7 separate regions of the Homo sapiens genome follow, and regions 1, 2, 3, 4, 5 and 7 are each reported to be linked to region 6. Evidence: microRNA targets listed by miRTarBase, many of them from high-throughput screens and not tested one by one. Region 6 holds a microRNA gene; each other region holds the end of a gene's coding sequence. Distances are between the middles of the regions.
The links. Region 6 holds the annotated microRNA hsa-miR-7977 (UUCCCAGCCAACGCACCA, at 1,592-1,609, shown strand). A microRNA usually pairs through its seed, bases 2 to 8, with sites in the 3' UTR of a target mRNA and lowers its output. Matches are read on the target gene's strand: a 7mer-m8 pairs with bases 2 to 8, a 7mer-A1 pairs with bases 2 to 7 and ends in A, and an 8mer does both.

Region 1: miRTarBase lists IKZF3 as a target of hsa-miR-7977. Seed matches in the 3' UTR shown: 8mer at 2,350-2,357 and 7mer-m8 at 1,188-1,194.
Region 2: the mRNA of PHF7 is a reported target of hsa-miR-7977. The part of its 3' UTR that is shown has no 7-base or 8-base seed match.
Region 3: miRTarBase lists ZNF783 as a target of hsa-miR-7977. Seed matches in the 3' UTR shown: 7mer-m8 at 1,945-1,951, 7mer-m8 at 1,810-1,816 and 7mer-m8 at 1,626-1,632.
Region 4: miRTarBase lists DMWD as a target of hsa-miR-7977. Seed matches in the 3' UTR shown: 7mer-m8 at 1,483-1,489 and 7mer-A1 at 1,876-1,882.
Region 5: the mRNA of GALNT2 is a reported target of hsa-miR-7977. Seed matches in the 3' UTR shown: 7mer-m8 at 610-616.
Region 7: miRTarBase lists MRPS17 as a target of hsa-miR-7977. Seed matches in the 3' UTR shown: 7mer-m8 at 988-994, 7mer-m8 at 1,136-1,142, 8mer at 1,318-1,325 and 7mer-m8 at 1,448-1,454.

Annotation. Positions count from the first base shown.
Region 1 is chr17:39,763,023-39,766,115 of GRCh38, forward strand. It overlaps IKZF3 (IKAROS family zinc finger 3), which reads right to left. Exons shown (of 8, transcript NM_012481.5): 8 at 1-3,093. The coding sequence ends at 2,768. Among named protein-coding and RNA genes, the nearest start is that of GRB7, 27 kb to the left of the region's middle.
Region 2 is chr3:52,422,970-52,426,062 of GRCh38, reverse strand. PHF7 (PHD finger protein 7) reads right to left here. Exons shown (of 11, transcript NM_016483.7): 11 at 2,422-2,972. The coding sequence ends at 2,746. Among named protein-coding and RNA genes, the nearest start is that of PHF7, 14 kb to the right of the region's middle.
Region 3 is chr7:149,282,052-149,285,051 of GRCh38, reverse strand. It overlaps ZNF783 (zinc finger protein 783), which reads right to left. Exons shown (of 6, transcript NM_001195220.2): 6 at 64-3,000. The coding sequence ends at 2,709. Among named protein-coding and RNA genes, the nearest start is that of ZNF783, 21 kb to the right of the region's middle. RefSeq lists a silencer at 1-69.
Region 4 is chr19:45,781,812-45,784,888 of GRCh38, reverse strand. It overlaps DMWD (DM1 locus, WD repeat containing), which reads left to right. Exons shown (of 5, transcript NM_004943.2): 4 at 174-248; 5 at 599-1,942. The coding sequence ends at 646. It overlaps DMPK (DM1 protein kinase), which reads left to right and starts at 2,399. Exons shown (of 15, transcript NM_004409.5): 1 at 2,399-2,696. The coding sequence starts at 2,537.
Region 5 is chr1:230,279,208-230,282,300 of GRCh38, reverse strand. GALNT2 (polypeptide N-acetylgalactosaminyltransferase 2) reads right to left here. Exons shown (of 16, transcript NM_004481.5): 16 at 179-2,998. The coding sequence ends at 2,843. Among named protein-coding and RNA genes, the nearest start is that of PGBD5, 150 kb to the left of the region's middle. RefSeq lists an enhancer at 1.
Region 6 is chr3:176,513,512-176,516,604 of GRCh38, forward strand. MIR7977 (microRNA 7977) reads left to right here and starts at 1,592; the gene lies at 1,592-1,640.
Region 7 is chr7:55,954,577-55,957,669 of GRCh38, forward strand. It overlaps MRPS17 (mitochondrial ribosomal protein S17), which reads left to right. Exons shown (of 3, transcript NM_015969.3): 3 at 333-1,924. The coding sequence ends at 602. Among named protein-coding and RNA genes, the nearest start is that of MRPS17, 4.2 kb to the left of the region's middle.

The DNA.
Region 1 (3,093 bases), not on the chromosome of region 6:
ACCAACAGGATGTGCGATATTTCAAGAACGTAATGAGCAACTCCTCTTTCACAAAGGGAATAAGCAATCTGGCATAGCTTGGAGTCTAGTATTACGGAAATACAGTGATATACTGAAGACTACACACCAAAATACATCCATTCCTTTAGCTGAAGTCTCAAACATGTTGGGACTGTTGCCATGGAATTTCATAAAACCTTTTTTCCTGAGACAGACGCCATGCCACAAAGAAGGATAAGCCATTTGTGCAGTCTGAGGTGGAACATTTTAATTACTGGCAGCACATAGACGAGTTGAGTTGGAGCCGAATGCATAAGCCCCTTAGAAATAAAACACTAATCTACCAGGAATTTGGGATTCTTGGCTCTGGTAGAAATGTTACAAATTAAGCTGACTCTTAATTTGTAAATAGGCTCCATGAAGTTGTCCCTGGAAGCAGAATTTATTTTCCCTAACATAATTTCTTAAAAAGTAAAAAAAAAAAGAAGGCTTTGGCAAACAGCTGCATGTGCCAATTTGTGTGTATGCTTTGTGGCAAGATCAAAATACCTTTCTGTTTTTTGTTCCTCTCCACCACCTTCTTCACATTCACAACTCAGTGGTTAAAGGAAAAACTTAACACACCATTTTCATACCAAAGGAATGTGAAACATGTATTCATATAAATACTCTTCTGCTTAATATCCATACATTAGGAGGTTTAAAAAATACCTTGTGGTTACTGCATAATCACATATGAATTAAAGCTAGAAGGGACCTAAGAGAACATTGAAATCTAATTCCTATTTTATGGATGAGGAAACTGAGTTTTTTTTGTTTTTGTTTGTTTGTTTTTGTTTTGTTTTGTTTGAGACAGGGTCTCACTCTGTCGCCCAGACTGGAGTGCAGTAGTGTGATCTCCACTCACCGCAACCTCAACCTCCCAGGCTTAAGCGATTTTTCTGCCTCAGCCTCCGGAGTAGCTGGGATTACAGGCATGTGCCACTACTGCCCAGCTAATTTTTGTATTTTTAGTAGAGACAGGGTTTCACCATGTGGGTCAGGCTGGTCTCGAACTCCTGACCTCAAATGATGCGCCTGCCTCGGCTTCCCAAAGTGTTGGGATTACAGGTGTGAGCCACCGAGCCTGGCCGGAAACTGAGTTTTAAGAGTTAAATAAGGCTGGGTGTGGTGGCTCACACCTGTAATCCCAGCACTTTAGGAGGCTGAGGCGGGCTGATTGCTTGAGCCCAGGAGTTCAAGACCAGCATGGGCAACATAGTGAGACCCCTATCTCTACAAAAAGAACAAAATGTAGCCAGACATGGTGGTGTGCACTTGTTGTCCCAGTACTCAAGAGGCTGAGGTGGGAGGATCACCTGAGCCTGGGGAGGTCGAGGCTGCACTGAGCCATGATTGCACCACTGCACTCCAGCCTGGGCAACAGAGTGAGATCCTGTCTCAAAAAAAAAAAAAAAAAAAAAGTTAAACGATTTCTCAAAGTCACATAGCTAATTAGCCAGCATTTTGTGACCTCCTATTCCAGTGCTAATTTTACCATGATAACAGCACTCCTCCTGATAGTATGTACATATTATGAGTGACAAGGATGACTTATACATCTGCAGAACCGTGATCAGACTTTCAGGAATTTTCATGGAATACAGCAGTTCCATTTAAATGGGAAAAAAAGGGCCGAAGCCTGCCTGATCAAGGAGAACCTCTCAATAGAGGTGTCCCTCCTCACCCCATTCCGGAGCTCAACTCCGATCTAAACACACATGCCATCTATCTCCAATTCCTCTCCTGTGGGGAGGGGGAGGCTGAGCCATACTTTTTGGACTTTTTTTGTGGAAAATATCATTGGCAAATTTGCTTTGGGTCTGTATCACCAATTCTCCATGAACTCTTTCAAGAAGTTTTAGGTAGCTGTTTTTTGTTTGTTTGTTTTCTGTTGGTGCTGCCAAACAATTTCCCCCTTTATACCCTTGCTCTGCCAACCTTGACCAAAGGAAAGCGATGTCATCATCCACAGTGGATAAATTTCTGGAGTTTCGATGATGGTCTATATTTAAAACCATGAGTTCTTCTGGCATAGATTTTCTTCTATAGACAACTGGTTTAGCCCAAAGCAGCTCAGCTTTTCACTGGAGATGGGAAGGTAAAGGACAGAAGCAGAAGTGCCATCAGATGACATTTTTTAAAAATGTTGTGATAGGAAATGGATCTGATGCTTGGAGAATGGGGTCTTCAGTTACTCGTAACAGATACTTATTTTATGGCTGTTCTTTTACTTACTCTTAGACTGTCATTTAGATTAGGGAGATTAGATCTTAACCCTTCAGCCTGTGAAGGGCAGAAGGGTGAGGCTTCCCAGCAAGGTCAGCTGGTCAGCTCTTCCTCTTTGTGGATTTGCATGTATGACTGAAAGGCTTTTCCACGTGTGGTTGATATATCTCAGAAAGAATGTTTCATATAGCACATCTCCGGGACCACTCATTCCACTGCTGTAGAAGATAATGACCAAATACCTTTTTGGCTTTTAAATTCCATAAAATTCAAGTCCCTGATGGGAAAACAAAGGTTTCACAAAAGTAATAATATGCTAGACCTGCGAATAATTTCTGAAGGAAGACAGTGTTTCCCTGGCTACCCCTGTGAACACAGCTAAAAATGGTATGAAAAGAAGTTTGGAACTGAGTATGTTTTGAGAGCAATCTGTTAGGCGAGGTCATTGGTTTTTAGAAACGATGCTGAATACATAGGAGCAATCCCTGAGACCAGATATTCACTTCAGCAGGGCTCTGTGTTCTCCTCTGGCTATGTGAGACGAGAACTCATACCGATCATGGCTTCGATATCCACACATGTTACACTCGAAAGGGTCACGGAAGCCGTGGCAGCCCATGTGAATCGTGAACATCACATAGTCCAGGAAGAGGACGCGGCAGTGGTCACACCGATACACATCCATCACCTCCCCTTCCTTGTTGATCACTTTGACGGAGTCTCTTGGGCAGATGGGCGGGGGCTTGAGGAGTTCGTAAGAGCGGGGAACCTCCTTCAGAAGTGGCATCCCATTGCGGGCCCGAGACAGGACCATGTGATTTTGCT
Region 2 (3,093 bases), 120 Mb from region 6:
GGATTACCTGAGCCCAGGGAGGTCGGGGCAGTGAGCCATGATCATGCCACTGAACAGAGTGAGACCCTGACTCAAAAAAAAAAAAAAAAAGGGGCTGGGTGCAGTGGCTCACGCTTGTAATCCCAGCACTTTGGGCGGCCGAGGCAGTCAGGAGTTCGAGACCAGCCTGACCAGCTTGGTGAAACCCCGTCTCTACTGAAAATACAAAATTAGCCTGGCATGGTGGTGCGTGCCTATAATCCCAGCTACTCAGGAGGCTGAGGAAGGAGAGAATCACTTGAACCCGGGAGGTGGAGGTTGCAGTGAGCCGAGATCGCACCACTGCACTCCCGCCTGGGCAACAGAGTGAGACTCCCTCTCAAAAAAAAAAAAAAAAAAAAAAAAGAAAGAAAGAAAGAAAGAAAAAGAAAAGCAAAAAGAGGCCAGGCGTGGTGGCTCACACCTGGATTCTCAGCACTTTGGGAGACTGAGGTGGGTGGATCACGAGGTCAAAGAGACTCTGTCTCAAAAAAAAAAAAAAAAAAAAAAAAAAAAAGAAGCCAGTTATTTAGTGGAGAATGACTGATTAGGCCCAGATGAAGAATAGAACATTTCAAAGTTGGACTTTCCAGCCTATAAAAATAGGGTTGGCTATTAACATCAGTGGAGACTAAAAATACAAAGAGTAAGAAATAGTTAATAGCTGTGTGTGTGTGTGTGTGTGTGTGTGTGTGTGTATGCATGCACTGTCGTGTTAGCTAAGCAAGTATCCACAAAGTCAACTGTACACAGAGGTAGGGCAGCTGACATCTAGGTGACAAAAACTGCCCCCTCCCAAGCTCCCTTTCTACCCACTGAAGCTAAAGTCGAGAGGGCACTGTTAGGGGCCATTACTCTCAGTTAAGATAGTGTTTCTCACACTTGGGTATACAAATAGACTCCTTAAGAAAAGATATTAATACTACCACAGATCCCTAAAAATATGCCTGGTGACCCAAGTTACAGAAACTCTAGGTTTAGAACTAAAGTCTTAATCTAAGGAGCATCTTTCAGTTGTGAATTATCACTGCAAGAGTTGAATCTTTAGAATGGGTTAAATATTGTGTTTTATATGAAAGCTCACAATTAAAAAATGTTCCTGTTACTTGCAGAGCTCTGACAAAATTTCCCTGGACGCCCGGATAAGCAAGGATAGCATTGGGTGGTCAAACCCAAGAGAAAGGAAATGAAGAAAAAGGGCATAATTGTGGGAAGCCCTAGGAGGACAGCTGTGCAGGAGCTCTAGGAGCAGCCAGCACTGGAGGCGGCGGCTCTGGGAGGCAGGTCTTCAGGAAAAGAAGTCCAGCTGATAGTGATCTGATGCCTGGTCTATGAGGAAAATTGCATTTTGAGACATTTTGTTGATCATTTGCAACATTTCAGAAGAATTAGCAATAGGTATATACCAAAAAAGAAGCAATTATTAATTTCAGAAAAAAACATTGTACAAAAGAGGAAAGGTAATCATAGTGTACTGCCTGGCTCAGTGGTAAACAGTATTTCTAGCATCATAATAATATAAACATTGAAAGTTAACAAAAATTGTGATACAATTATCTGAGGTGAACGAAAACGGGAAGATTATGTTTTTTTAATTTAATTTTGAGACAGCGTTTTGCTCTGTTACCCAGGCTGGAGAGCAGTGGCGCGATCTCAGCTAACTGCAACCTCCACCTCCCGGACTGAAACGATTCTCCTGCCTCAGCCTCCCAAGTATCTGGGATTATAGGCACCCACCACCGTGCCCGGTTAATTTTTGTATTTTTAGTAGAGATGGGGTTTCACCATGTTGGCAAGGCTGGTCTTGAACTCCTGACCTTAAGTCATCTGCCCGCCTCGGCCTCCCAAAGTGCTGGGATTACAGGTATGAGCCACTGCGCCCGGCCACCTTGCCTAATTTGAATGTCCTGGCATGCAAATTCATATTTAAACTCTGGACGGAAATGCTCGAACCACCGGGCAGTGAGGGTTTGACTGGGCTCACTCATGCTGTGGAGGTGTGCTGAAGCCCACACCAGTCAGGAGAGAATGGAGTCCCTTATGCCCCATGTATAAGCATGGTAGTCCTTGACCTGTTTGAGTCCAGGACCCCAAGCCTTGCAACAAGGGCCTATTCTCCACCCAGTGTGGACTGCTATGCTGGCTCACCTCCCTAATGAGAACCTGTGTACTTATTATTTGCACAATGATTGATGAAGATTCTCTACCTCTGTAATGCCAATTTCCGTATAAACAGGTTTCTTTCCCTCCAAAGAAACATGTCTATATTCTAAGCTAAAAGTTCTACATTAATTCCCTAAATTTTATGGATTAGGAGGGTGAGTTTTCTTACTCTCGTACTCTACCCCGTAGAATCTTTACTACCCAGACAAATTTCAGAATGAATTTATAAGGAGACACCAATGGAGAGAAAACCTTTATTTGCATAACAACAAACATGGGTGAAGTAAGAAGAGGCATATGAAAACAAGATTAAGGTGGAAGAATCCTTGGTGGGAGGAGAGGAGGAGAAAGCAGAGGCACTCTTGTAGCCATAAACGCATTTCCTTGTTGGCATCTGGACTGCTCCCTCCTCATGCTCCACTGAGACTTCTCTTTGCTTGGCTCATAGTCTCACTGCTGGCCCTGCTTCCTTGTCTCACAGTCCCAGAGTGCTCCCTCCCCAAACCCGATGGAGGAGCGCAGCTTCATACCCTATTGTGTGGGACAGCAGCTACTCAGAAGGTGTTACTTGGATTTTTTGCAGCTGTTAGTGATTCTGACACCCTTGGACCTCCAGGAGTAGCTCCTCCTGCCACGAGAGGACTCTGGCTTTTCTAATAAGGAAGGTTCTGGCCAATCAGTCCAAGAAAGGCCCGGATTCTCTTCCAAGGTGTTGTCTCTGCAGAAATGTTCCTCAGGGTGGAAGGTGCTGCTGCAGCAAGGGATGTCCCCTGAGTTTTCAGGTATGTAGTCTGGTGAGAGAAAGGCAGGAGAGGAAAACTCAAGCCTCTGCTTCTCCCAGGCACAGGTCCTTAAGCTCCTCTCTAGCTACTTTCCTTCCAAAGTCAAAGGCACCAACTATTAATCCCCCTC
Region 3 (3,000 bases), not on the chromosome of region 6:
CCACCGCCCCGCACGGCCACTCACCTCCCAGAGAGCAGAAACCAGATCAAGCGCACGCACTCGTTTATGCCAACAACTTTATTGAGCACCAATTAGGGCAAGGGACTACCACCTTCACAGTTCTCTTGGGCTTATTAACGTCGTGGCCCACTCATTTATTTCACAAATGAGGAAACCGAGGACCCTGCTGGGAGAGTTTGGGGCCCAACCAGGGCTCCCACTGAGTCTGGGGCACCCTCAGCTCCTGCACCACAAAGCTTCGGTTGACTTGTTTCAATGTAAAGAACGTTACTTAAACAGGTCTGAGTGCTAGGCAAACTCACAAGACCTAGCTCAAAGTTTGAGCACATTGGTATGAAAAAAAGAAAAAAGGAGAATCAGCACCTTGTGATATTTAAGCAGGGGCATTTGGCATTAGCCAACCAAGCCCAGAAAGTCGGCAAAATTCTTAGCCTGAGGCATCCCCAGAACACCTGAGACTAGCTCCTGCAGCTGAGGGTTAAACTCGTGCACCTGCACTTGCACCACATCCTGTCTGAGCTCTTGCTGACAGCCCGTCTCTGGTTTGTGAAGCTCCTGGCAAGGGTGGGGGGACTCCAGAGCAGACAAGCAGGATCCACAGCACAGAAGGGCAGTGCCTCTTCCCAAACCCAAGGGAGCCTGGCTGAACTGTCACTGACTTGTATACTCACTCTCCTCCCAGAGATGACAGCAATGCTACCATTGGCCCCCAACTCTGCTCAAGACTTTGGAAGAAGTGTGAGGGTCAGAAGGGCAAGGAAATGGCACATCCAGGGACCAAGACCCCCAGAAGCAGCCCTGAAGCGTGGTCACAGTGCCAGACAAGGCGGTAAAAAACAAGGATAGCTGGGGTCCCATCACTCCAGCTTCAGAGTCACCCACACCAAGGCTGCTCTACAGACAGCGTCCGCAGTGGTGTGATGAGAGACACCAGAAGCCAGCTGACCTCCAGACTGCCCCATGAGGCAGTCTGAACTGAGGCAGTCTGAACTTCTACAGTCCGAATCTCATGCTTTGGTAAGAATTTGTTCACCAAAATACAAAGGACTCCTGGGGAACAGAGCCCCATGGGCGACTCTTTCACTGAACCCAGTGGAACTGCCACTCACTCCAGAAGATAAAGGTCCTTCCTGAGGGATTCTGACAGGAAAAAAAGGCTGGAATGGAGTAGAAAGGAGGCCCTGAATTTGAAAGGAAGCACAAAGCTAGGCTTCATATTTGTCCCAGTGCCTGTTACTTTGACCCTGACAACTCTGAGGTAGGACACACTGGGGCCATGACCCCTTTGACAGAAGAGGAACATGAGACTAGCTGTGACTAAAGGATTCACCCAGATCTCCTAGCCCAACTCTGCCCCAGAGCCCAAAGTGCTCAAGGGAGAACTCCTTTGAGAGGAGACTGCCCCGCCTTTAATGTGAAAAGCAGGCCTGGAGGCCCAGGGTGGACGTGGTCCTCAGCCAGACCAAGGGCCTCCTCTAGTGGAGGGGCTTCCTGGGCTCTCTCTGCACTGCCCCTCAGGGTGCTTTCTGGGGTCCAGTCAATGGATCTTACACACCCATGAACACTGAGCCCTTGGGGAGACGTGTCCAGGCTTCAGTTTCCCCTCCCAGCTGACAACAAAAGTAAATAATGGATGTGACTATCCTGTGGGGAAGGACTAGGAATACTGGGAGTCACTCTGGGCCAAGAAACACACACATGGGGAGACACTGTGCCTCCAAGACAGCAGCCAAGACATCCCCATCAAAACCCACAGGCTGGGCCAAGAGTGGTGGCTCACGCCTGTAATCCCAGCACTTCAGGAGGCCGAGGTGTGCGGGTCACCTAACATCAGGAGTTCGAGACCAGTCTGGACAACATGATGAAACCCTGTCTCTACTAAAAATACAAAAATTAGCCGGGAGTGGTGGTGGGCGCCTGTAATCCCAGCTACTCAGGAGGCTGAGGCAGGAGAATCACCTGAACCCGAGAGGCGGAGGTTGCAGTGAGCGGAGATTGTACCATTGCACTCCAGCCTGGGCAACAAGAGTGAAACTCCATCTTAAAAAAACAACAACAACAACAAAAAAAAAACCAAAAGACCCACAGGCTGGTGGACGTAGCTCCCCTTTCAGCTCTGCGAGCCTCACATGGAAAAGCCGACTCTTTCCGACTTTGCAAAAGGCAAAGTTCCATTAACAACTACACACATTTACAAAAGTATTTCAAAGTCTCTATAAGAAGGGAAAAAAATTTCAAAATAGCAAAGTAGAAAACTTTCCAGGGCCCTTTCTTCAAGTCAGGCCATCCATCCACTCCACTCCACTGTTTCTCATGGTGACAGCAGGCAGGAGATCTCTGCACAAAACAAAAATCCCAGGTCCCCGATGTCTCTATCGCCCCCATACTGGAAGGGCCATGATCTCTGGTCCTCTTGGCTGTGGTACCTACCAGAGGCCTTATCAAAAATATGGCATCCCTTAAGCCTTAAGGCATCTTTTAGAAGTCAGGAATGCAGAAAAGGCAGCGAAGAGTGCAAACAGGAAACAGAAAGCACCCGGTCACACACAATGTCACCAGAAGGGCAGCTAGCTTCCCATTTGAATGGGTAAAAACAACAAACCTCTCTCCATCCCAGGAAAAGGAAGAACCTGCGTCAGGCACAGGGGAGAGACCCCGCCAGGGGTCCTCTGTGGGCTCCTGCCAGGTCAGCCCTCCTCCTTCCGGCTGGGCCAGGGCAGGGGCAGGCTCCCGTGGCGGGCGGGGGCGGCAGGGAAGTGTGGGCCCACCTGGCCTCGGGCGTGGGTCTGCATGTGCACGGCCAGGTGGTGGTTGCGGTTGAAGGTCCGGCCACACTGGGGGCACTGGTAGGGCCGCTCACCGGTGTGGATGCGCTGGTGCCGGAAGAGGTCCGAGGGCCGGCGGAAGGCCTTGCCGCAGTAGGGGCAGGCGGGCCAGCCCTGGCCATTGCCGGTGTGCAGGCGCTGGTGCAGCAGCAGG
Region 4 (3,077 bases), not on the chromosome of region 6:
CAGTTGCCCAGGGTCCTGGAGGCCGTGGCTTGGTTCCTCAGATCCTCAGTTTTGGAATCGTAGAGTCCTGAGTCCCTAGAACTTGAGAGCACAGTCTGAGTGACTCAGAGGCAAGAGTGGTGGGATTTGGGGAGTCTGGTTGAGTCCTAAAAGAGACCCCTCTGTCTCCGTAGTTCACAGACGAGGAGACCGAGGCCCAGACAGGGGAAGGAAGTTGGCCCAGGTCACCCAGCAAGTCAGTGGTAGAGGTAGGACTGTCCCTGAGTTCTTTCCCCAGCACCTCAGGGTCCCTCCCAAGTTAGAAGGGAGCTCCAGTTTCCCCCTCCCCTCCCACCCTTACCCTTACCCCATGGTCTCACTCAGGATCCGCCAAGGACTTTGATTATTGCGTGAAAGTGCTGACTGCCAGGACAGGAAGCTAGCTAAGATGCAAGTTCCCAGCCTAGAGCAGTGGCCTCTGGGGGGTCTAGGGCGGACCCAAGGGCAAGGCCAGGGTGGCAGCAGCTTTGGGGACTCTGGGCTGGCTCCCTCCCCTTGACACTGGCTGAAGCCCAGGTGGTCTCTAACCCCTCCCATCTCTCCCTCTCATCTTCCCCAGGGCATCTCCTCCCAACCAGGCAACTCCCCGAGTGGCACAGTGGTGTGAAGCCATGGATATCGGGCCCCCCCAACCCCATGCCCCCAGCCTCCTAGCCATAACCCTCCCTGCTGACCTCACAGATCAACGTATTAACAAGACTAACCATGATGGATGGACTGCTCCAGTCCCCCCACCTGCACAAAATTTGGGGGCCCCCCAGACTGGCCCGGACACGGGCGATGTAATAGCCCTTGTGGCCTCAGCCTTGTCCCCCACCCACTGCCAAGTACAATGACCTCTTCCTCTGAAACATCAGTGTTACCCTCATCCCTGTCCCCAGCATGTGACTGGTCACTCCTGGGGAGAGACTCCCCGCCCCTGCCACAAGAGCCCCAGGTCTGCAGTGTGCCCCTCAGTTGAGTGGGCAGGGCCGGGGGTGGTCCAGCCCTCGCCCGGCCCCCACCCCAGCTGCCCTTGCTATTGTCTGTGCTTTTGAAGAGTGTTAAATTATGGAAGCCCCTCAGGTTCCTCCCTGTCCCGCAGGACCTCTTATTTATACTAAAGTTCCCTGTTTTCTCAGCGGGTCTGTCCCCTTCGGAGGAGATGATGTAGAGGACCTGTGTGTGTACTCTGTGGTTCTAGGCAGTCCGCTTTCCCCAGAGGAGGAGTGCAGGCCTGCTCCCAGCCCAGCGCCTCCCACCCCTTTTCATAGCAGGAAAAGCCGGAGCCCAGGGAGGGAACGGACCTGCGAGTCACACAACTGGTGACCCACACCAGCGGCTGGAGCAGGACCCTCTTGGGGAGAAGAGCATCCTGCCCGCAGCCAGGGCCCCTCATCAAAGTCCTCGGTGTTTTTTAAATTATCAGAACTGCCCAGGACCACGTTTCCCAGGCCCTGCCCAGCTGGGACTCCTCGGTCCTTGCCTCCTAGTTTCTCAGGCCTGGCCCTCTCAAGGCCCAGGCACCCCAGGCCGGTTGGAGGCCCCGACTTCCACTCTGGAGAACCGTCCACCCTGGAAAGAAGAGCTCAGATTCCTCTTGGCTCTCGGAGCCGCAGGGAGTGTGTCTTCCCGCGCCACCCTCCACCCCCCGAAATGTTTCTGTTTCTAATCCCAGCCTGGGCAGGAATGTGGCTCCCCGGCCAGGGGCCAAGGAGCTATTTTGGGGTCTCGTTTGCCCAGGGAGGGCTTGGCTCCACCACTTTCCTCCCCCAGCCTTTGGGCAGCAGGTCACCCCTGTTCAGGCTCTGAGGGTGCCCCCTCCTGGTCCTGTCCTCACCACCCCTTCCCCACCTCCTGGGAAAAAAAAAAAAAAAAAAAAAAAAAGCTGGTATAAAGCAGAGAGCCTGAGGGCTAAATTTAACTGTCCGAGTCGGAATCCATCTCTGAGTCACCCAAGAAGCTGCCCTGGCCTCCCGTCCCCTTCCCAGGCCTCAACCCCTTTCTCCCACCCAGCCCCAACCCCCAGCCCTCACCCCCTAGCCCCCAGTTCTGGAGCTTGTCGGGAGCAAGGGGGTGGTTGCTACTGGGTCACTCAGCCTCAATTGGCCCTGTTTCAGCAATGGGCAGGTTCTTCTTGAAATTCATCACACCTGTGGCTTCCTCTGTGCTCTACCTTTTTATTGGGGTGACAGTGTGACAGCTGAGATTCTCCATGCATTCCCCCTACTCTAGCACTGAAGGGTTCTGAAGGGCCCTGGAAGGAGGGAGCTTGGGGGGCTGGCTTGTGAGGGGTTAAGGCTGGGAGGCGGGAGGGGGGCTGGACCAAGGGGTGGGGAGAAGGGGAGGAGGCCTCGGCCGGCCGCAGAGAGAAGTGGCCAGAGAGGCCCAGGGGACAGCCAGGGACAGGCAGACATGCAGCCAGGGCTCCAGGGCCTGGACAGGGGCTGCCAGGCCCTGTGACAGGAGGACCCCGAGCCCCCGGCCCGGGGAGGGGCCATGGTGCTGCCTGTCCAACATGTCAGCCGAGGTGCGGCTGAGGCGGCTCCAGCAGCTGGTGTTGGACCCGGGCTTCCTGGGGCTGGAGCCCCTGCTCGACCTTCTCCTGGGCGTCCACCAGGAGCTGGGCGCCTCCGAACTGGCCCAGGACAAGTACGTGGCCGACTTCTTGCAGTGGGGTGAGTGCCTACCCTCGGGGCTCCTGCAGATGGGGTGGGGGTGGGGCAGGAGACAGGTCTGGGCACAGAGGCCTGGCTGTTGGGGGGGCAGGATGGCAGGATGGGCATGGGGAGATCCTCCCATCCTGGGGCTCAGAGTGTGGACCTGGGCCCTGGGGCAACATTTCTCTGTCCTATGCCACCACTCTGGAGGGGCAGAGTAAGGTCAGCAGAGGCTAGGGTGGCTGTGACTCAGAGCCATGGCTTAGGAGTCACAGCAGGCTAGGCTGCCAACAGCCTCCCATGGCCTCTCTGCACCCCGCCTCAGGGTCAGGGTCAGGGTCATGCTGGGAGCTCCCTCTCCTAGGACCCTCCCCCCAAAAGTGGGCTCTATGGCCCTCT
Region 5 (3,093 bases), not on the chromosome of region 6:
ATTATTACAAGTAAGAATAACCAACCAAAGGGCACAGCAATAAAAGCGCATCTGCAAAAGGTGATAAGAAACAGCCACTGAGCAGGAGCTGCAGAAGGCTGACCCCAATCCCAGTCCCCACACCCACCCCACCCAGCCCTCACACACCAGGACAGACTCTGGCCAGCAAAGAGCGGTATCTAGAAAGTATCTTCTCTTTATTTAAGTTAAACAATTTTCAAGGATGGTTTCCATCTATAAAATGGACAAAGTACAAGCTCTGTACAGCAGTTCTTTTTAAAAATCAACTGGAAAAAAAAATTACCAAACTATATTTTGAATTTGCAAAACATACTCACAGATACCATCATCTGAGCTTTTATGAGGACATAAGAAAGGACCAGCACAGAGAAGACAACTAACTTCGGCACGCTTTGCTCGAAGGGCTCTTAGGAAAGAATTCTGAGTTTTAAAAACAGGAGTGGGAGGGTGAGATAGTCCTGATGATTAAAAACTAACGCAACCGCAGTAAGTCACTTTGGCACACTGTGTCATGTAAACATAGCTCACCGCAAAGGACCCCTCCCCGGCCCACCCCTGCTCTTGACGCCCGGACCATCCAAAGCCGCCTCCCAGCTCAGGGACAGGACGCCGCCCCCAGGGCATGGGCCGCACAAGGGTCTGGGTAGACACGTGGGATGATAGGAAGGCTGAGAGGGCCTAGGGGTGCGGGCGGGGTAAAGGTGAAGGGGCAAAGGATTCGTCAGAAAACGTGATTTTAAAACGAGCCAGATTCATCCATTTCCCTCCTTACAGTAGTAGCAGCTCGCAGGTCACAGGGTCTGACAGAAGAACCTGGGTGCTGGGGGCTACGCACACCCTGCTCTGGCCTGCACTCCACAGCCTCGCACAGGTACCTAAGGGGGTTTTCCTCAGGCTCCCCCCGAGCGCCCACCGTGAAAGACAGAAGCGTGCGGAGTTACTCCAGCGTGGGGGCACGCTGCCCACTCACAACACATCTGGTTGCATGGCAGGGGAGGCGGGAAGAGAAGACCTATAGGGCAGCCCTCCAGCCAGGCTTCCACCTCGGGGCCGCTGTCCTACAGTGCACACATGTGGGGCTCCCGCCGGGGAGGAAGACACACAGTGGCCCCTTTCATACAAGACACAGGGAGGAGCATGGCACCGGCACAACCTCCCAGGGTGGCTCCTAACTCCAAGGCCGCCGCTGTCCCACCGAGGGGCCTGCAGGTGTGCCTAACTGACGCTTTTCTCAGACTGCCAGGCCGTGCCAGCCTCTCTGAGACTGAGCATCTGTGTGTGCGGCGCTGGAGAAGGCGGCCAGGAGTGGAGGAGGAAGCAGGGCACCGACCACAGAGTGGCAGGGGTGACGAGGAACATTCCTGAGCACCCAGGTAGAAGCCAGGCACCTCTCCCCGTTATGACTTTCAGTTCATAACTGTCTGTGGTTTAACAGGACCCCAAGGCTCCTGTCTCCCGCCCTGAATCCTCAGTGTAAATGAGCAGGTATTGTTTGGTTCTGACCCTTCCTAATTCTTTCCCCAAAGCCCCCTGAAGCAGTCATCTTGGCCAGGCGGGGTGTGGGAGGGAGCTGCGGGCGGGGCAGGACTCGCTGCCTGGCTGGAGCTCCCCAGGCCAGCAGGTGTGCAGGACTGTGAGCCAGGCCTGTGCCCTGGCTGACGGGCTCATCCCTGACACTGCTGGCCATTAATTCTGAAGGCCCAGCGTGCAGGGCTCAGATCACAATGAAGCCAATACTAGCGTGTGACAGCTGCCTGGCATCATTGGTCTGCCCTGTCGCCAGGGGGCAGCGGTATTGCTGGCTCACACAGAGCTATGGGGTATGTCTTATATTCCTTAGAGAAAAGAAATTTAATGTAAAAAGACCCAAAGTGATATCTGTCAAAATAAGTAACCGCTCCAGGTTCACAGATACGCACAGCACGCAAGGTGGATTCTGACGCACAGTAGGGACTCTCAGGCTGACGCCCAACAGGGATGCCGGGGCCGAGGCCGGTGGTCTGGAGGAAGCCCCCCAGCTGGCCACAGCAGTAGCACCAACTGGCTGATCGGGCTCCAGGGGACAAAGGCCACCTCCTCCCTCTGTGAGAAACTGGCCCCACCGGGCTCTGGCCCCTTCTCCCGGAAGCTGCGAACGGCTTTGTGGGGAATATACAAGATGACGATGATCTACAGAAACCATAGGGAACTGACCGTACATTCTTTCTCTATATAGCTTTATATTTAGTGTCCCACCATAGAAAACTTCATCCTCAATATAGCAAGTACATGAGGTGGAGGGGAGTCTGGCCCAGGAAGACACTTGCGAATGGAGGAGCAGAGAGAGGGACTATTGACGTAAACCTGCCACGTGACACGACTCGGCTTTGTGGAAACCATACGTGATTTCGAAGGGATTGAAAATGGAGATTTCAAGAGTTCTCCTCGCTCCCCTGGGGCATGTGTGCCCCCTCCTCCCGCCCTGTCCTCAGCTCGCACGCATCCGTTCAGTTGCTTCTACCACTCCCCAGTCGGTTGTCGCTGGGTGTCACTCAGTTGCGGAGCCGGCAGAAGTGAAAGCTGGAAGGAAGAGGGGCGCTCCGGCCTGGGGAAGGGGGCCCGGCTGGGCTGCACCGAGAGGAGGGGGAGGGCAGTTCTCGCTTCTTGCCGCTGCTGTGTCTGCACAGTCGTCCGTGCCTTGCCGAAGTTTGACTTTCAGACCATGATGGAATACTGAGGTATATTAGTTTCGCGGAAAGTTTAAGAAACATAATCAATAATGTGATCACCAGACTCCACCCAATGGTGCAGGAGACAGGACGGCAGGGCCTCCCGGACCCTCCTACTGCTGCAGGTTGAGCGTGAACTTCCACTGCTGCGAAAGGGCCGGGCCACACACCTCCACGCTTAGGCCCCCGCTCTTGGCCGTGCGACTGTCCAGGCACAGGTTGCTGCCCACGTGCCTCAGCTTGGAGTTGCCCTCGATCTGTTCCCATTTCTGCAAGACACAGGAGAGTGCCTTAGAGTGTGGGCACAAGCAAAGGAGTACAAACAGATTCGTGTGAATTCAGGACCTTGTGGCTGCATTAAAAA
Region 6 (3,093 bases):
ATTGTTGGACAGTATTAAAATGAAGGCTCCCCCCAGCAGGCCAGGTTTGTCTGTCTTAAAGATGGTAAGAAGGCCATGCCCTTATGCCATAGAATATGAGGTGCTCTTTCTACAAAGTCTCAGGGTTGAAGCAGTCCCAGTGCTTTAGAATATACTCCAGGGGAGTACATGCTGAACATGATCTGTTACCCATCTAGAAAGAGAAGTGAGAAAAAGGTGTCTCTTTTGTCTCCTTCCTCTCTCTGTATAACCCAGAGTGGAGAAGAAGACAGTGGGAGCGTCCCCCCAACTGTTTTCCTTCCTTGGTTCCTGGGTCCCAGCACCCTGTTAAATGTGCTGCCCATGGTTGTATGTGTGACCCTCCAAGCCATGGCACCAAAGAAACCAAGCAACTGGGGCTAGTCATGCTCATTCAAGTAGCTCTAGTCCTCTGCCTGTGATTTCCCTTTGACTTCCTAGACTTGTGTGACCTGTGTGCCTCCCTTAAAAAAAATTGACCTTGGGAAAGATTATATAAAAGGCAAGTGTCCTTTAATGGAGGGAATGTGCTAGATTGCCTGCTACTATGGCCCGTGTTAAAGCCTTAACCCTTAGAAAAATGGTTCTGGTTAACTTTCAGACTTAAAATCCCCTTACTAATTAAGGACTGTCTTATTGGAGACAGAATAGTTTCCTTAAAGGGATGTGGGGGCCTAATCGTGACTTTCCTGTTGATGGGACAGGATCAGGACTCAAATTTGGCTGCAGAGGACAATTTACTCCTAATTGTTGAAGGCAGAATTTTCCTGTTCACAGAAGCAGCATAAAGCCTGGTTTCCAGTAGGAAGGGGCAAAAAGGAAAAATTAGGAAGCTGCGGTGGACTGTAGCGGACAAGCAATGCGTCTTATGAAGAGGGTGTCTATTTCCACTAGGTGGCGCTGTTGGCTTAGGAATACTATGTGCCACCAGCAGCATAGTAGGGACTCATCTCACAACCGGGGTTTCAGAGACCTCTGTTCCTAGAAGATTGCAACAGCATTTTCCTGAGCTATAGCCCCGGTTATTACAGCATTTCCTGATCTTGCCTAACAGGATTACTTCCCTAGGCTGTAAAAATTCCCACACATTCGACACACAAAGAGAATAAGAGGCATAGCGACCGTGGATAGAAACAGAAAAAAAGTTTTGCGACAGGATAACTGGGGATCTTTTACCAACACCTGGGCAGGCTGCTGGAGGCTGAGTCCGGTCCAGAAGCTTTTGAATAACACTAGGAAATGCCCTGGCCAGAAATTCTCAGTTGCTTCAGAACTTTTCCCCGCCTTATGCAATGGCTAATTTTCCCCATGAACAGAAAAGCTGGTTTGAAGCACGGCCAACATTCCCAATGACCCAGGGTATTGGAGGGAGGGGGGTCTTCATGTTCTCCCCAGCAAGGCTGACATGCGAGTCTTTAAGAATGGCAGCCACACTAAGCATATCTAGATGGTTGACAGATGCTGTTATTGATTTGATTTGATTTTAAAATGGAAGCCAAGAGCCTCGGAATGAAAGGACAGGTTTTGAGTTTGCTCTTCTGCTCACCAACCCCAATGGATATTGTACCTTGGTTTCCCAGCCAACGCACCAAAAATGATATGGGTCTGTTGTCTGGAGAAACACCCAAGGTCCTTGTTCTCGCACGGAGAAAATTAGCGACACGGATACACGTGGAGTGGTTTAAGGAGTGGAATGTTTAATAGGCAAGAAAGAAGAAAACAGCTCCCTCATACAGAGGGAGGAGGGCTCCAAATGGAAAACCCCACATGTAGCAGAAAGCAGTCGGTTATATTGGGAGGCTGGACGACGTGGTGTTTGGTTTGCATAGGAGCCAGGGGATTGGTTTGACCAGGTGTGTCATTCACATAGCCTGCAAAAAAGCCAGCTCTCCCACCCTAGCCTTTAAATATGCACATATGGCTACCTGGCTGGTCACCATGATGTTCTGCATACGTGGCAACAAAGAAAAAGTCACGGGAACCACCATATTGGTTGGACCTGGCTTCTAGCCACCAGCATTTGCATATCAATGCTTGCAGGTCTGGTTTTTCAGGCCACTTTCTGTTAGAAAAGAAATGTTTTGGGGCTTGCTTTTTTATTAAAAGAAAAAGCCTTACCAAGGACTCTTTTCCCCTCTCTTGCTGCCTAAAATAATTTCTTAATAACTCCTGTAATACTAGTGATTCTTCGATCAGGAATACAACTTTTCTATAATTTGTGATTTCAAACGTGTCAAGATGGCAGTGACATCATTTTTTCCCATGTGCTTTCTGCTTCTTCGCTTAGAAAATCAGTGGCAGATTTCTCCCAGTAAAGAAGACATATTATTTTAATGTTGCCAAATATTTTATAAATTATTCCCTGACTTATGCTCAAACAGTGACTATAGTTGAAACATCATCCTGCAATGAAGCTCAAAGTATACCAGTCTTACCTATGCGTTCAGAGCTTCAAACAGTTTTTAAAATCTCCGTCTTTAAACGTGAGAAGATAAGCAAGAATTAACAGTTGAAGAAGGCTTCTTTTGTGAAAGAAAAGTACTGGGAAAACAAAACAAAACAAAACAAAAACTGGAGGAGAGAGATAATATAAAAAAGAAAATGTTTAAAGCTTATCGTTGTCTTAAAAGAAGTTTCGTTAATTAAACAAAAAGAGCTTTCTGATTTTAAAATTACTGTAGGCCAGGCATAGCAGTTCGCACCTGTAATCCCAGCAATTTGGGAGGCCTAGGCAGGTGAATTACTTAAGCTCAGGAGTTCAAGACCAACCTGGGCAATATGGCAAAACCCCATCTCTACAAAAAATACAAAAATTAGCCAAGTATGGTGGCACATGTCTGTGGTCTCAGCCACTCAGGAGGCTGAGGTGGGAGGATGGCTTGAGCCTGGCAGACAGAGGTTGCAGTGAGCCTAGATCACATCACTGCACTCCAGCCCAGGGACAGAGCGAAACCCTGTCTCAATAAATAAATAAACAAACAAACAAATAAAATTACTATGGAGCTATAGAAATCAAAATAGTGTGGTACTGACATAAAGATAGGCCTATAAATAAGGTAATGGAACTGAGAGTCC
Region 7 (3,093 bases), not on the chromosome of region 6:
CAAAAAATTAGCCGGGCATGGTGGCAGGCACCTGTAATTCCAGCTACTTGGGAGGCTGAGGCAGGAGAATCTCATGAATCTGGGAGGCGGAGGTTGCAGTGAGCTGAGATCGTGCCATTGCACTCCAGCCTGGGCAACAGAGCGAGAATCCATCTCACTGGATTGTCTCACTATATCACTCAGGCTCTAATTTTTGTACTAGAAGCCTCCTTAGTATCTTATCTTTTCCTAAGTCCTGGCTTGTTTTCCATACGTTACTTTTTCATATTACATATTACATTACCAGGTCACAGATGGGAACTACTGATTTGCTTCTCTCCCTCTCTCAACAGTATTTTAATAAGCGGAAAACCTACTTTGCTCACGATGCCCTTCAGCAGTGCACAGTTGGGGATATTGTGCTTCTCAGAGCTTTACCTGTTCCACGAGCAAAGCATGTGAAACATGAACTGGCTGAGATCGTTTTCAAAGTTGGAAAAGTCATAGATCCAGTGACAGGAAAGCCCTGTGCTGGAACTACCTACCTGGAGAGTCCGTTGAGTTCGGAAACCACCCAGCTAAGCAAAAATCTGGAAGAACTCAATATCTCTTCAGCACAGTGAAGCGGGAGTGGAAGAAGGATCTAAAGGGAAAAACTGACATGTTTATGTTATGGAAAAAGAAATTTTTCTAAGTTTCATCACAAACTGTGTCCAGTTTCTCTGTGGTGTTTATGAAATAGCTAAAAGCAAATGAAGTAAAGGGCATACTATGGTTTTTCACAAAGGTTTATGGTCGTGTTTCAAATTTTCATCATTTCAGTGAACATACTTCCACGTTACATTAAGTGTGCCTAGCAGTCTGTTGCATTTTGTAAGCTCACAGTTTTTTGTTTTGAGATGGAATCTCACTCTGTCACCCAGGCTGGAGTGCAGTGGTGCAATCTTGGCTCACTGCAAGCTCCGCCTCCCGGGTTCACGCCGTTCTCCTGCCTCAGCCTCCCGAGTAGCTGGGACTACAGGCGCCTGCCACCATGCCCAGCTAATTTTTTTTTTTTTTTTTTTGGTATTTTTAGTAGAGACGGGGTTTCACCGTGTTAGCCAGGATGGTCTTGATCTCCTGACCTCGTGATCTGCCTGCCTTGGCCTCTCAGAGTGCTGGGATTACAGGCGTGAGCCACTGTGCTTAGCAAGCTCACTGTTTTAGAAGGTTTTATTTTTGTCTTTTGAGACAGGGTTTTGCTTTGTTGTGGGGGCTGGAGTGCAGTGGTATGATCTTGGCTCACTGCAGCCTTGACCTCCCTGGCTCTAGCATCTTTCCACCCCAGCCTTCTGAGTAGCTGGGAACACAGGAGCGTACCACTACACTTGGCTGATTTTTTGTAAATTTTGTAGAGACAGGGTCTCCCTGTGTTGCCCAGGTTGGTCTCGGACTCCTGGGAGCAATCTGCCCATCTTGGCCTAACAGTGCTGGGATTACAGGCCTGAGCCACTGTGCCCAGCCGGTTTCCTTTATTTCATTCAAAGGAATTTTGAATTTATCTTAGAACCTTTATTTTGAAGGAAGAAAGTCTTTTTTTTTTTTGAGCTGGAGTTTCACTCTTGTTGCCCAGGCTGGAGTGCAATGGCATGATCTCAGCCCACCACGACCTCCGCCTCCCAGGTTCAAGTGATTCTGCTTCAGCCTCCTGAGTAGCTAGGATTACAGGCATGTGCCACCACGCCCAGCTAATTTTGTATTTTTAGTAGGGATGGGGTTTCTCCATGTTTGTCAGGCTAGTCTTGAACTCCGGACCTCAGGTGATCCGCCCGCCTGGGCCTCTCAAAGTGCTTGGATTACAGGCATGAGCCACTGCATGTAATGACCAGCCACTGGTCAGAATTCTTTCAATCAAGCTGTGTTAATAAGAATATTGATGTGTGGAAAATAAAATTTTACAATTCTGTGCCACTTTTCTTACATCCTAGGCTAGATTAAATAGGTGTAAGTTCCTAAAATCTGACACATTAAGTTGTAGGACTTCTCCCACATGCATTTGGGATGGAGAGTGAGTTTTGTTGCTATTCATTAATATACCACGATAATTTAGATTTTGACTTAAGGAAGCATTGAGCAGTATATTTCCGTTTTCTGGCCCCTAGAAAGAGAATAGGGGACTTTTTTTTTGAGATCGAATCTCCCTCTGTTGCCCAGGTTGGAGTGCAGTGGCACAATCTTGGCTCACTGCAGCCTCCGCCTCCTGGGTTCAAGCAATTCTGCCTCAGCCTCCTCGAGTAGCTGGGGCTACAGGAGTGTACCACCACGCCCAGCTAATTTTTTTTTGTATTTTTAGTAGAGACGAGATTTCACCATGTTGGCCAGGCTGGTCTCGAACGCTTGATCTCAGGTGATTTGCCCACCTCAGCCTCCCAAAGTGCTGGGATTACAGGCGTGAGCCACTGCGACTGGCCAAAAGGGGAATATTTCAATCATAGCTGATACATATTTGTTTGTTTGTTTGTTTTGAGATGGAGTCTCGCTCTGTTGCCCAGGCTGGAGCACAATGGTGTGATCTCAGCTCACTGCAACCTCTGCCTCCTGGGTTCAAGCAATTCTCCTGGCTCCCAAGTAGCTGGGATTACAGCTGCCTGCCACCATGTCCAGCTAATTTTTTTTAATTTTATTATTATTTTTTGTATTTTTAGTAGAGACTGAGTTTCACCATGTTGGACAGCCTGGTCTTGAACTCCTGACCTCAGGTGATCCCATCCGCCTCAGCCTGACAAAGTGCTGGGATTACAGCGTTGAGCCACCGTGCCCAGCCTTGATACATGTATTGTGTAAGCACAGGGTTTCCAGGATGATCACAGGCCTTGCCGGCCTCAGGGATCAATCTAGTTGGGGAGGTATGCACAGGTGCCTCCATGGCAAACAGGATATGGGTGAGGGTGAATTGAAGGTCACTTCTCAGGAGAGATGAGATGGTGCTAGAAGTAAGCATTGAAGCAAGAGTCTCCAGGACAGTAGATGATGGGGTGGAAAGGGCATTTGAGGCAGAGGAAAGGGAATGTAAAATCCACAAAGTGAATGAAAGTATAACCAGGGCTTCCGGAAGCAGATGAGGATTGCTGCAAC